2 linked regions of the Homo sapiens genome follow. The protein of the gene in region 2 interacts with the protein of the main gene of each other region in a pairwise test. Each region holds a gene or a part of one and is shown on either strand. Other genes may lie near its edges.

Region 1 (7,788 bases), on a different chromosome or scaffold from region 2:
AAGACCACTGCACTCCTGCCTGGGCGACAGAGTGAGACTCACTCCATCTCAAAAAAAAAGAAAGGTGAAGCTGTAAGTTTTGGTGCCACACCCAGTCCCTGAACTACAAAGGTTTACGGAGTTTTAGCCTAGGACTGAGTTGTACTGGCAGGTTGGGCCAAGTGTGAGTGCAAGGAGAGGAAAGACTAAGATGTATTCTTTCACCACATCATCTGTCCCTTCTTATACTTACATGAGCTCAAAGATCTCCCCGATGAGCATACATGTGAAGCCATTCTTCTGGTGCAGATTATAAACGTGTAATTGTTAAGAAAAAGTAGTCAGTAAAGAAAGCAGGTAAGAGCACAGACTTTGGTGTCAACACACTCAAGCTTAAGTCCTGGCTCTGTGACTTTCTAGCTGTGTGACTTTACCAAGTTACTTAACCTGTCTAAACTTTTGTCTGTCCATGGTGGTACATTAGGAATAAATAACACTTGTCTCATAGGAGTATTAGGTCTAAGATAATGCATGTAAAGCATTTAACACAGAGCTGACACAGAATGAGTCAAAAGACGTTACTTATTACGATTATTTACATCCCATCAAAAAGGAGGCTCGGCTGGGTGTGGTGGCTCACGCCTGTAATCCTAACACTTTGGGAGGGCAAGGCAGGTGGATCACTTGAGGTCAGGAGTTCGAGACCAGCCTTGCCACATGGTGAAACCCTGTCTCTATGAAAAATACAAAAAATAGCTGGGCATCGTGGCAGGTGCCTGTAATCCCAGCTACGTGGGAGACTGAGGCAGGAGAATCTCTTGAACCCAGGAGGTGGAGGTTGCAGTGTGTTGAGATCGCCCCTGGACTCTAGCAGCAACAGAGACAGACTCCATCTCAAACAAAAAAAAAAGGAGGCTCACCCTTAGAAAGGCTTCTACAAATTAACACCACAAAGTGGACACAGGCACACAGATCTTGGTAAATGTGGGCTATCATTACTTAACGATGATTTCACCAGCCTCTTTCAGCCTCAGGATGAGCTCCATTCCCGTTTCCAGGTATTAGAGTCAAACCTACCCCCACCTCCCACCAGAGCCCCGGCTTAGAGAGACATTAAAGGTCCCAGAGCTCCAACTCAGAAACACAAAGGATATTCGAGAGAAGAAGAGGTCAAGGTTTTCAATATGGTGCCAAGGTGCTGTGGGATAGGAACAGAGATGTCAGAGCCCTGGGAGAACACAAGCCCCTTGCTCTCTCCATGTTCTTCCATCAACTCTCCCTATGGCTGTCATATCCAAGAACTCACACTTGCTCCCCTCGGCGACGTGCACCAACAGGTCCTCCTCCCCTGGGGGTGAATCACTATAGGAGGCCTCTAGGCGCTGGTATTCAGTGTCAAACTGCGCCATCACCACCGCCCCCTGTCCACCTTGACCACCTGCCAATAAGGAGGAAGAAGAGACCCTGATTCAGTTCCAGCTGCTGCCCATGGGCTGCCCTGCCTACTGCCAAAAGGAGAAAGTACCCTTGGGCTTTGTCCACTACCAGCCTCCTTGGCTCAGAGGCAGAGGAGTAGTGACACAAGAAAGGCAGTAAGCTCAGGGCTGGGGGAGCCTTAACTCTGGCCAGTCTGGGTGTCTACTGCTGCTTTCCTGGCCCAAAGCCAGAATCTGTCCCTTTGTTGGGGGCTGTTTCATCTTCTATTTAACGGACAGAAGAGTCCCTCCCCCGCCCATCCTGGGAACCCTGGTCTCCCAAGAGACTAACAGTTTGGAAGCACTTCACAAACAAATGTTTGAGAAAAGCACATGGCCCTACCAGCTCCATGGACAGTATGTGCTCCTCTCCAGCCCTCGATGCTCTGCAGCTGCTGGAGGAGAAGATGTCAGGCCCCAGAGAGTGGGCAGTGGGGATAAAAAGGAACCCAACCCTCCCAGCCATCCACACCCCACCAAGAGGAGGCCAAGCATGGGGCAGGAAGGCTGCAGTGGGGAAGAAGCACCCTTCCAGCCCAGGACTACGAGCACTTCCTCTGGCTGTGCTAAACCGGGCCACTCTTCCAACTCCAGGGTCTCAAGAAGTAACTTAGGGACCCCATGGAGAATGAGTGGGTACAGACCTGAGGCCAGGGGCGCCTCTGGACTATTTCTCCATTGCCCTACCTTAGCCTCAGAAATGACATACTTCTCAGGGTCCACAAAACCTCAAGAGTCTTTCCTGAAGAGGACCTTTCTGGTCAACCCCTTCTCTTACTTCCCTAGCACCAAAGATCCAGCCGGTGAGCAAACCTTCTGGATGGGAAACCTTGACTGGGTCAGTGTAGACCCCCGATCCTAGGTGAATTTGTGGGTTCCCTAGGTCCTGTAAGCCAGGCATGGTCGAGGTGGTACTCACCTGTCCGTGCAGCCCCTGGGGGCCGTGGATCTTGGCCCAGCCTGGCCCCGGTGGGATTCCCTGGGCTAGTGAGAGCCCTGCCCCTCAGGGAAGTCACCACTCACAGGGTCAGTGTGGACCAGGGCCCGTGGAGCCCCGGCCGGCTGGGCCTGGGCTCAGGGGTTCCTGCGGATGTTGCAGGGATCGAGTCAGCCTTACAGCTGATAGCCCGGGTGGGTTGGCTTGCCTCCCCACACCCAGCCGCGGCGACCGTGGACCGGAGTCCACCTCGCCCCAGGGTCGCCCGGCCCCAGGCCAAGGGCTGGCAGCTCCCAACAGCGGACAACCTCGCGCGCGGCCCCGGCGCCCGCGCGCGCCCCCGTCTGCGCGCGCCAGCAATCAAAACATTCCGGCTGCGCGCCCCCGCCCCGCCGGCGGCGCCCCTTCCTCCGTTACCCGCCGCGAGCTCACTTAGGGCTCCGCAGGCACCCCTGGGCAAGGCCAGACACGGGGCCTGGGATTCCAATAACCGGTCTCACGTCTTACCTCAGGAACAGCGACCCGGGTGATTCCAGAGGCTCCGCCGGCTCCGCTCGGCTCGGCTCGGCTCGGCGCGACCCGCGGCGCTAGGCCGGGTGTCTGCCACTCACTGTCACCCGCAGCCAGGCTGGCCAATAAGCACGGGGGGCGGAGACACAACGGCCAATTCTCGGCTTCAGGGACGGGACTAAAGTCTCGAGGCGGGTCTTGGACAGTCAGCGGCCCAATAGTGTGCTCTACGTGGGGCGGGGCTCAGGTGCGGACGCCGCCGGTTGTCCTCTTCGCTGCTCCGTAGTGACGGGGATTGTTGTGTTGCAGAAATCCGGCAATCGACCTGAGGACTTGCGAGCCGCTCAGCTCCCGGGACGTTTGGTGCGTCTTCTAAGGGCGTGGGCGAGTTTACGCGGGCCAGTTGTTGCTGGTCGCATGGGTAACGAAGAAAGTTCGGCTAGGCAAGCTCAGTGATTTTTAACTCTGTTGGACTCGATTTGGGAGCCGAATGCCTATTTCATTCTTTTGTGGGCTGAGACTGGGGGTTTGAGAAAGTGGACGGGGGCCAAGGTATTCATCTCACAGTTGGTAGCAGGATGAGAGACGAGAAGTCTTGCGGTGCAGGAGAAACCAAGTCAGGCAGGCAGGAGACGCAGCAGTAGGATCTCGTTTGCAGGAGCCCTGTTTCTTACACGCTTTCTACTCCAGGAGCTGCTGCTAAATAATTTCTGCTCAGCCATGTCGCCGGCTCCAGATGCAGCCCCGGCTCCTGCGTCGATCTCCCTGTTTGACCTCAGCGCGGATGCTCCGGTCTTTCAGGGCCTGAGCCTGGTGAGCCACGCGCCTGGGGAGGCTCTGGCCCGGGCTCCGCGTACTTCCTGTTCAGGTATCCTGGAAGGTTTCGTGTGAAACGTGACAGGGCTCCTTACAGCGTATTGCCCGTTCAGGGAACACATTCTTATTGGTATTCCCGAGCTTAGGAGGCCAATTGATTTATCTTTCTGCTTGATTAAATTCACTTAATCTCTGGGTAATGTCCAGCACAGCCCTTGTTTTCAAACAAGTCTTTTTGCCATTGCATGTATCTCCTCACGTTAACACCATTCCCTTCAAAAACACTTTAAACTTTGTAGAGATAAAATTCTCAGATGTATTCCACATTTAACCAGGCCCCACTCAAATTATTCCTTTTTGCTGAATATGAAACAATTTATTATTTGTTTCGTATAGCTTTATTTTTTGAGAGTCTCGCTCTGTCGCCCAGGCTAAAGTGCAGTGGCACGATCTCCACCCACTGCAATCTCCGTCTCCCGGGTTCAAGTGATTCTCCTGCCTCAGCCTCCCGAGTAGCTGGGACTACAGGCCCGCACCACCATGCCCGGCTAATTATTGTATTTTTAGTAGAGACGGGGTTTCACCATGTTGGCCAGGCTGGTCTCAAACTCCTGGCCTCAAGTGATCCGCCTGGGTCAGCCTCCCAAAGTGCTGAGATTACAGGCATGAGCCACCGTGTCGGTCCTGTTTTGTGTAACTTTAGTTTGGCTACATCTTTTCTTGCACCTCTCCTTAGACAAACTGTACACTAATTGGAAATGTAAACTTTAAAAAGCATTTGGGAAGTAGTTTTTGTGCAGTGAAAAATAATTTTAAACTGAACAGAAATTATTTTCTTTAGGATTCACCTAAACAATCTGTTTGGCTAATTTAAATTAGACAAGACTCAAACTCAGCCAGTGGGGAGGACTTGCAGACGCTGGATCTCGGGAGAGGGCTACGTTGGAGAAGTTTAACCGACCCCAAGGCTTTTACCCTCATCGGATTCTTTTCCAGAATGCCCAGGGCCAGTTTTTATTTACATTCGTTTTATTTATTTTATTTTTCTTCATCTTTTTTGAGACAGAGTCTCGTTCTGTTGCCCAGGCTGGAGTGCAGTGGTGTGATCTCGGCTCACTGCAAGCTCCGCCTCCCCGGTTCATGCCGTTCTCCTGCCTCAGCCTCCCAAGTAGCTGGGACTACAGGCATCCGCCACCACACCCGGTTAATTTTTTGTATTTTTAGTAGAGACGGGGTTTCACCGTGTTAGCCAGGATGGTCTTGATCTCCTGACTTCATGATCCGTCTGCCTTGGCCTCCCAAAGTGCTGGGATTACAAGCGTGAGCCGCTGCACCTGGCCAATTTTATTTTATTTACATTCATTTTACGTACATGTTTTCAGAAGCATGTTTATTGCATTAAGTGATTGCTGTACTGTTTATTTCATGACTATTAGAGTGTAAATTCCTTGAAGGCAGTATCATGCCATCTCTTTTGTATCCTCCTCTGCTTTGTATATCACACTCTGAATATAATTCTTGTCACTGTGGATTTGGGCTCCCTTTCTATGTCCAATTCCTCTTCCCTTATTTAGGCTCAGGGGAGAGAGAAAGCCCAGAAAGAAAGCTACTCCAGGGTCCTATGGATATTTCAGAGAAGTTATTTTGTTCAACTTGTGACCAGACCTTCCAGAACCACCAAGAACAGGTAATAGGTCAGGTGCAGAGCTAGATGTTAGAAGCAAAAGTGTAATGGTGGGTGGGGAGAGGTAGACATTTGATTTGTCTTAATAAAGGTCCATGCTTTGACTGAGGCAGTTGGTGTTACCTGGTTGTACTTCCTAGAATACTATAACTGGTCTTGGCCAGTACAAGGCCAGGCTGGGGCATATTTCCACCTTTATCTCACTCTTTGTCTTTGTACTAGAGGGAACATTATAAGCTTGACTGGCATCGGTTTAACCTAAAGCAACGTCTCAAGGACAAGCCTCTCCTGTCTGCCCTGGACTTTGAAAAGCAGAGCTCCACAGGTGATGAGTGGTAGGGGGACCTATGTAGGAGTAGGACATGGAGGTATAAGAAAGCACTAGTTTAGAGTTTGAGGAAAGAACAAAAATGGGGTACCAAACTTGTGTATCTCATATTGTCTGTCTTCAGGAGATCTTTCCAGCATCTCGGGATCAGAAGACTCAGACTCAGCCAGTGAGGAGGACTTGCAGACACTGGATCGGGAGAGGGCTACATTTGAGAAGTTGAGCCGACCCCCAGGCTTTTACCCTCATCGAGTTCTTTTCCAGAATGCCCAGGGCCAGTTTCTTTATGCCTACCGCTGTGTCCTAGGCCCTCATCAGGCAAGTGACAGTACAGGTTGCATGGCTAACCCCAGCCTTTTGTACACCCAGCCTAGATTTCCCTTAGCCTAGTGCATTTCTCCCTGCTTCTCTTCCTTCCTGTTGGTTGTGGGTATCACGCTTGACAACATAGTCTTGAATTGAAACTGGCCTGAATTGTGGAAGGGTTAAGTGTAATGGAATTAAGTTTGGAAACAAACCAATTTAGGTTTGAATTGTGATTCTACCACTTCATCTTGACTGCCTCGCCAAGCCTCAAATTTCCTTGTTTGTCAAATGGAAACAAGCCTCAGGGTGGTAATATTAAATGAGATAATGTTTGTGAAAATTGGCCCTTAGTTTCTTGCTCTCAGTGAATGCAACAGATATGTTTCTGATGCTTCTCTGTCATCAAGGATCCCCCAGAAGAGGCAGAACTGCTGCTACAGAACCTGCAAAGTAGAGGTCCCAGAGACTGCGTGGTGCTCATGGCTGCAGCTGGGCACTTTGCTGGTGCTATATTTCAAGGGTGAGAGGGTGCTGCATGGGGGTAAGGATGGAGTGGATCCTGTTAGCCAGGGAGCACCAGCTGGTCTCCAGTACTGAGTCTGTGCTGTCTACAGAAGAGAAGTGGTGACACACAAAACTTTTCACCGCTATACGGTTCGGGCCAAGCGGGGCACAGCCCAGGGGCTTCGGGATGCCCGAGGTGGGCCATCACACTCTGCTGGAGCCAACCTGAGGCGCTACAATGAAGCCACACTATATAAGGTGAGTTAAGCCTTTTAGATCTGGTGGTACTGATCCATACTTTTTTTGCATCTCTGTTCAACTCACTGTTAAGTAGGGAGGTTTTTGACTCATATCCTTCCAATTTTCATTATAGGTAGACAAAGGTAGATGAGGGATTCCCCAGGAGCCTTAGTCCTCTATTCTTTCTCCGTGTTATCCTCTACTTTCCACCCCTTGCACTTCTGTGGGCCATTTTTTTTAGTTGGAGATTTATAAATAGCAAGTGAAGGTATGCAGGACTGAGTTACTCTCTTCTCTAGGATGTTCGTGACCTGCTGGCAGGGCCAAGCTGGGCTAAGGCGCTGGAGGAGGCTGGTACAATACTGTTGCGTGCTCCCCGCTCTGGCCGGTCTTTGTTCTTTGGAGGCAAGGGAGCACCCCTGCAAAGGGGGGATCCCCGACTTTGGGATATCCCCCTCGCCACCCGCAGACCCACCTTCCAAGAGCTACAGCGTGTGCTCCATAAGCTGACCACTTTGCATGTCTATGGTGAGCCTTTGCTCCAGATCCCAATTCCCTAGACCTTCCTGTTCTCTCCAACCTAAGCCTCCATTCTCATTGGTATATCCAGAGGATTTTCTAAGCCTTGGACTGCAGCCCAGCTACATCTGCATTGAGAGAAACCTGCGCTAGCTTCTCCTCAGCTAAGGTTGAGAAAGATCTTTTCTTTTATGGCAGAAGAAGACCCTCGGGAAGCAGTCAGACTGCACTCACCTCAGACACACTGGAAAACAGTAAGAGAGGAGAGAAAGAAGCCTACTGAGGAAGAAATAAGAAAGATCTGCAGGGATGAAAAGGAAGCGCTGGGGCAGAATGAGGAATCTCCCAAACAGGGTTTGATTACTATCTGGCAACTGTCAGATCTGAGTTTCTGTCCTAAAAATGCACTGGCAAATTCCCTACTCTCATAACTGACCCATTTCCTTATTTAAACACACACCCACAGTGTCTATCTTAGCAATTACTGAGA
Region 2 (7,087 bases):
GCACAACGTGCAGGTTTGTTACATATGTATACATGTGCCATGTTGGTGTGCTGCACCCATTAACTTGTCATTTAACATTAGGTATATCTCCTCATGCTATCCCTCCCCCCTCCTCCCACCCCAAAACAGGCCCTGGTGTGTGAAGTTCCCCTTCCTGTGTCCATGAGTTCTCATTGCTCAATTCTCACCTATGAGTGAGAACATGCAGTGTTTGGTTTTTTGTCCTTGCGATAGTTTGCTGAGAATGATGGTTTCCAGCTTCATCCATGTCACTGCAAAGGACATGAACTCATCATTTTTTATGGCTGCATAGTATTCCATGGTGTATATGTGCCACATTTTCTTAATCCAGTCTATCATTGTTGGACATTTGGGTTGGTTCCAAGTCTTTGCTACTGTAAATAGTGCTGCAATAAACATACGTGTGCATGTGTCTTTATAGCAACATGTTTTATAATCCTTTGGGTATATACCCAGTAATGGGATGGCTGGGTCAAATGGTATTTCTACTTCTAGATCCTTGAGGAATCGCCACACTGACTTCCACAATGGTTGAGCTAGTTTACAGTCCCACCAACAATGTAAAAGTGTTCCTATTTCTCCACATCCTCTCCAGCACCTGTTGTTTCCTGACTTTTTAATGATCGCTATTCTAACTGGTGTGAGATGGTATCTCATTGTGGTTTTGATTTGCATTTCTCTGATGGCCAGTGATGAGCATTTTTTCATGTGTCTTTTGGCTGTATAAATGTCTTCTTTTCAGAAGTGTCTGTTCATATCCTTCGCCCACTGATTGATGGGGTTGTTTGTTTTTTCCTTGGAAGTTTGTTTGAGTTCATTGTAGATTCTGGATATTAGCCCTTTGTCAGATGAGTAGATTGCAAACATTTTCTCCCATTCTGTAGGTTGCCTGTTCACTCTGATGGTAGTTTCTTTTGCTGTGCAGAAGCTCTTTAGTTTAATTAGATCCCATTTGTCAATTTTGGCTTTTGTTGCTATTGCTTTTGGTGTTTTAGACATGAAGTCCTTGCCCTCGCCTATGTCCTGAATGGTATTGCCTAGGTTTTCTTCTAGGGTTTTTATGGTTTTAGGTCTAACATTTAAGTCTTTAATCCATCTTGAATTAATTTTTGTGTAAGGGCTAAGGAAGGGATCCAGTTTCAGCTTTCTACATATGGCTAGCCAGTTTTCCCAGCACCATTTATTAAATAGGGAATCCTTTCCCCATTGCTTGTTTTGGTCAGGTTTGTCAAAGATCAGATGGTTGTAGATATGTGGCATTATTTCTGAGGGCTCTGTTCTGTTCCATTGGTCTATATCTCTGTTTTGGTACAAGTACCATGCTGTTTTGGTTAATGTAGCCTTGTAGTATAGTTTGAAGTCAGGTAGCGTGATGCCTCCAGCTTTGTCTTTTGGCTTAGGATTGACTTGGCAATGTGGGCTCTTTTTTGGTTCCATATGAACTTTAAAGTAGTTTTTTCCAATTCTGTGAAGAAAGTCATTGGTAGCTTGATGGGGATGGCGTTGAATCTATAAATTACCTTGAGCAATATGGCGATTTTCACGATATTGATTCTTCCTACTCATAAGCATGGAATGTTCTTCCATTTGTTTGTATCCTCTTTTATTTCCTTGAGCAGTGGTTTGTAGTTCTCCTTGAAGAGGTCCTTCACATCCCTTGTAAGTTGTATTCCTAGGTATTTTATTCTCTTTGAAGCAATTGTGAATGGGAATTCACTCATGATTTGGCTCTGTGTTTGTCTGTTATTGGTGTATAAGAATGCTTGTGATTTTTGCACATTGATTTTGTATCCTGAGACTTTGCTGAAGTTGCCTATCAGCTTAAGGAGTTTTTGGTCTGAGACAATGGGGTTTTCTAGATATACAATCATGTCATCTGCAAACAGGGACAATTTGACTTCCTCTTTTCCTAATTGAATACCCTTTATTTCCTTCTCCTGCCTAATTGCCCTGGCCAGAACTTCCAACACTATGTTGAATAGGAGTAGTGAGAGAGGTCATCCCTGTCTTGTGCCAGTTTTCAAAGGGAATGCTTCCAGTTTTTGCCCATTCAGTATGATATTGGCTGTGGGTTTGTCATAAATAGCTCTTATTATTTTGAGATACGTCCCATCAATACCTAATTTATTGAGAGTTTTTAGCATGAAGCGTTGTTGAATTTCGTCAAAGGCCTTTTCTGCATCTATTGAGATAATCGTGGTTTTTGTCATGGGTTCTGTTCATATGCTGGATTACGTTTATTGATTTGCGTATGTTGAACCAGCCTTGCATCCCATGGATGAAGCCCACTTGATCATGGTGGATAAGCTTTTTGATGTGCTGCTGGATTCGATTTGCCATTATTTTATTGAGGATTTTTGCATCGATGTTCATCAGGGATATTGGTCTAAAATTCTCTTTTTTTGTTGTGTCTCTGCCAGGCTTTGGTATCAGGATGATGCTGGCCTCATAAAATGAGTTAGGGAGGATTCCCTCTTTTTCCATTGATTGGAATAGTTTCAGAAGGAATGGTACCACCTCCTCCTTGTACCTCTGGTAGAATTCGGCTGTGAATCCATCTGGTCCTGGACTTTTTTTGGTTGGTAAGCTATTAATTATTGCCTCAATTTCACAGCCTGTTATTGGTCTATTCAGAGATTCAACTTCTTCCTGGTTTAGTCTTGGGAGGGTGTATGTGTCGAGGAATTTATCCATTTCTTCTAGATTTTCAAGTTTATTTGCGTAGAGGTGTTTATAGTATTCTCTGATGGTAGTTTGTATTTCTGTGGGATCGGTGGTTATATCCCCTTTATCATTTTTTATTGCGTCTATTTGATTCTTCTCTCTTTTCTTCTTTATTAGTCTTGCTAGCAGTCTATCAATTTTGTTGATCTTTCAAAAAACCAGCTCCTGGATTCATTGAGTTTTTGAATGAATCTTTCCACCAAATATTAGAAACATATGTACCCAAGGAGTGAGGTTTCGTTTTGTTTTTGTTTTTGTTTTTTGTATCAAATAGGCTAGATAATGTATCTTTTTTTTTTTTAATTTTAGTTTAAGTTCTGGAATACATGTGGTGAATGTACAGGTTTGTTACATAGGTATACATGTGCCATGGTGGTTTGCTGTACCTATCAACCCGTCATCTAGGTTTTAAGCCCCGCATGTGTTAGGTATTTGTCCTAATGCTCTCCATCCCCTTTCCCCCAACCCCCCAACAGGCCCCAGCGTGTGATGTTCCCCTCCCTGTGTCCATGTGGTCTCACTGTTCAGCTCCCACTTATGAGTGAAAGCATGTGATGTGTGGTTTTCTGTTCCTGTGTTAGTTTGCTGAGGATGATGGTTTCCAGAATCATTAATGTCACTGCAAAGGACATGAATTCATTCTTTTTTATGGCTGCATAGTATTCCATGGTGTATATGTGCCACCCTTTCTTTATCCAGTCTATCATTGGTGGGCATTTGGGTTGGTTCCAAGTCTTCATTATTGTAAATAGTGCTCCAGTAAACATACGTTACGTGTGTATGTGTCTTTATAGTAGAATGATTTATAATCCTTTGGTATATACCCAGTAATGGGATTGCTGGGTCAAACAGTATTTCTGGTTCTAGATCCTTGAGGAATTGCCACACCGTCTTCCACAATGGTTGAACTAATTTACACTACCACCAACAGTGTAAAAGTGTTCCTGTTTCTCTGCAGCCTCACCAACATCTGTTTCCAGACTTTTTAATGACTGCCATTCTAACTGGTGTGAGATGGTATTTCATTGTGGTTTTGATTTGCATTTCTCTAATGACCAGTGATAATGAGCTTTTTTTCATATGTTGGCCGCATAAATGTCTTCTTTTGAGAAGTGTCCGTTCATATCCTTCACCCACTTTTTGATGGGGTTGTTTTTTTCTTCTAAATTTAAGTTCTTTGTAGATTCTGGGTATTAGACCTTTGTCAGAAGGATAGATTGCAAAAAATTATCGCCCATTCTGTAGGTTGCCTGTTCACTCTGATGATAGTTTCTTTTGCTGAGCAGAAGCTCTTTAGTTTAATTAGATCCCATTTGTCAATTTTGGCTTTTGTTGCAATTGCTTTTGGTGCTTTAGTCATGAAGTCTTTGCCCATGCCTATGTCCTGAATGGTATTGCCTAGGTTTTCTTCTAGGGTTTTTATGGTTTATGGTTTTATGGTTTTATGTTGTAAGTCTTTATTCCATCTTGAGTTAATTTTTGTTAAGGTGTAAGAAAGGGGTCCAATTTCTGTTTTCTGCATGTGGCTAGCCAGTCTTCCCAGGGCCATTTATTAGATAGGGAATCCTCTCCCCATTGCTTGTTTTTGTCAGGTTTGTCAAAGATTAGATGGTTGTAGATGTGTGGTGTTATTTCTGAGGCCTCTGTTCTGTTGGTCTGTATATCTGTTTTGGTACCAGTAGCATGCTGTTTTGGTTACTGTAGCATTGTATAGTTTGAAGTCAGACAGCATGATGCCTCCAGCTTTGTTCTTTTTGCTTAGGATTGTCTTGGCTATACAGGCTCTTTTTTGGTTCCACATGAAATTTAAAGTAGTATTTCCTAGTTTTGTGAAGAAAGTTAATGGTAGCTTGATGGTAATAGCATTGAATCTACGAGTACTTAGGGCAATATGGCCATTTTCACAATATTGATTCTTCCTATCCATGAGCATGGATTTTTTTTCTATTTGTTTGTGTCCTCTCTTATTAATAAGAGGATTTTTTATCAGCAGACATGATTATATCTGTGATTTGTAAAGTGAACTGGATAGTGATCAAGCCCAGTGGGCAAGCTATTAAAATAATTCAAAGGAAAAATGAGAATAGCAACAGTAGTGATAGAGAAGAGATTTTAAAAAATGTATTTTTTTTCTCTCTGGAGATGTTAAGTATTTTTGAGAAAAGGAGTAATAATTGTAACTTGGCAAGTGTGTTTTGCCTTTCCTAGTTGAAACTACTTTTCAGCAGTGAGTGGATAGGTTGTGGTACATGAATTTTATTGTTACTCATTATTAAAAAGTGTCTTAAAAATATGTATGTCTTAAAAATATAAGTAATTTTCCTTGTTAATTATGAAATATGTAATCTCTTTTTTTTTCTCTTAATAGCCTTATGTTAATATTGGGGTTTTATTGTTTTTGCTTTTCAGTACTGTAAGATTGATGTTAAAGGCATGGTGTTCACCCCACTTCATCAGCGTACATAAGTTATCTCTTCTTTTGGACCCTTATTTTATGCCATAATGGTAAGCTTCAGCTCAGTATGTTCAAATTTGTGTTTTAGAATGTTCTCTTCCTTCATCTTCATAAAGATATTTGTATGGTAGATATAGAAATACTCTTGTAAGCTGTACAGGTTATCCCAACTGGGAAATTACTTAGCAATCCCATTGCAAAGTCTTCTCTATAAAGTATATTGCTCACTAATCAGTGTTACAGTGATCACATTCATCCATCTATCTGTGCTTGTATTTATGAAGTATTAAAAATATTTACCTATATCTACTTTGCCATATTCCAAATCGTTGGCAAGGAGGATGGGTATAAATACAAATAGTTTTGGGGAGTATAGATTTCTCGTATTTTAAAGCTTTTCTTTAGATTTTATTAAAATTTAAAAACAAATGTAACCTGCTAACTGCATATAACGTATTTCAGGCAGCATCAGTGCTAATCTTCTAATGGCACATTTCTGTTCACTGACTTACAGTCACTAAACATAGTTAGGAGTAGGCATTTAACTTTTGCCATTAAGAAATGACAGACTAAGGGAGAAAAACACTTTTTAATGTTTTAAAGAAGCAGCAGCATTTGACAGAGAATAAATGAACATTGACCACCATGTTATTTATTTAGATAACCCCTATTCTGCGTCACAAACTTCAGAAAACATCTGTCTTCCTTCTCCTCTTGGTTCTTGCCTATCTACTCCTCCCCTATTAGAGAAAAGTAGAAGTATCACAGTGGGGTTCTGACAACACCTTGTATTTTGCATCTATATTACCTAATCATTTTCCTCTTAAGTTTTTGAAGGAGATAATGAATGAATGATGCTTTTATTTATGTATGTATGCATGTCTCACTAGACCCTTTGAAGTTTTAATTTCAGAAGATGAAATATTTACTTGAGATGACTGGCTGTTTAAAATTGTCCTAGACTATATATATTTGATTTTGTTTATTATAATTTTTTGATACAAACAAATTTTATGGGCAAAATTTAAAAGAACCTTCTGTATTTGTGAAGTGTATATGTACAGAATTATGTTTTCATGGTGGAACATGGGATCAGGGAAAATGGGAGTCAGGAATCTTAACTTGAATCCTGGGAACCAGTTTCATTGGGAATCCGCTTCTTATAAGTTTTTTTTTTTTTTTTTTTTTTTGGTAGTGACAGAATCTCACTATATTGTCCAGGCTGGTCTTGAACTCCTGATTTCCCACCTTGGCCTCCCAAAGCTTTGGAATTACAGGCATGTGCCACAGTGCCTGGCCAAGATTTTTTAACAAAGCAAATTAGTGTAGATTTATTATAACTGAACGTTTTGAAAAGATGGCAGATTTCAGACTTTGTTCACTTATCATATTTAGATATTTGATAATGTGGGTTTTTTATTGAACAGTGCAAGAAGGCCCACTATTTTTGGAATTATACAAATTCTCCATCCTTAGGACTAGGTGGTCACTTAAAAGTTCCCATGATTTCCAAAGGGTGGCAGTATTTGTTTTTCCCCCTTACCCTCCTGGGACTTTGGTGGGTGGTAGGAGTTTTTACCCACATGCAATTTGGTAGGTTGAGGTATTGGAATCTGCAAAATAAGACAGAAGAATTTAAGTCCTTTTAAATAAAAACTGAAAGTTCTGTGCCTCTTAATAAAATTTAAAAATGACTATCATTATGAATGAAAAAGACTATAAAACAGAAAACTAGAAAGAAAACCACTGGTGGTATATTTGGGTTTTGTTTTATTTGTTTGTTGTTTTTGTTTTTTTTGAGATGGAGTTTTGCCCTTTTTGCCCAGACTGTAGTACAATAGCACGATCTGGGCTCACTGCAACCTCTGCCTCCCGGGTTCAAGTGAT

What was found. Proteins that work in one complex are often made in the same cells at the same time.
Region 1: the proteins of SUPT20H (region 2) and ATG9A interact in binary tests that used the Homo sapiens proteins (3 or more experiments, as listed by UniProt).

The regions. Positions count from the first base shown.
Region 1 is NC_000002.12:219,226,637-219,234,424, forward strand, and holds the start of ATG9A (autophagy-related protein 9A), read right to left. Parts: upstream 3,001-7,788; 5' UTR 2,899-3,000; intron 1,850-2,898; 5' UTR 1,798-1,849; intron 1,418-1,797; 5' UTR 1,389-1,417; coding exon 1,286-1,388; intron 1,178-1,285; coding exon 1,134-1,177; intron 298-1,133; coding exon 233-297; intron 1-232. Other genes in the region: tRNA endonuclease ANKZF1, read left to right, coding at 3,622-3,769, 5,292-5,404, 5,624-5,726, 5,854-6,047, 6,443-6,555, 6,650-6,797, 7,079-7,307, 7,497-7,652. UniProt on the Homo sapiens protein: Phospholipid scramblase involved in autophagy by mediating autophagosomal membrane expansion. Cycles between the preautophagosomal structure/phagophore assembly site (PAS) and the cytoplasmic vesicle pool and supplies membrane for the growing autophagosome.
Region 2 is NC_000013.11:37,049,651-37,056,737, reverse strand, and holds part of SUPT20H (transcription factor SPT20 homolog), read left to right. Parts: intron 1-5,154; 5' UTR 5,155-5,247; coding exon 5,248-5,250; intron 5,251-7,087. UniProt on the Homo sapiens protein: Required for MAP kinase p38 (MAPK11, MAPK12, MAPK13 and/or MAPK14) activation during gastrulation.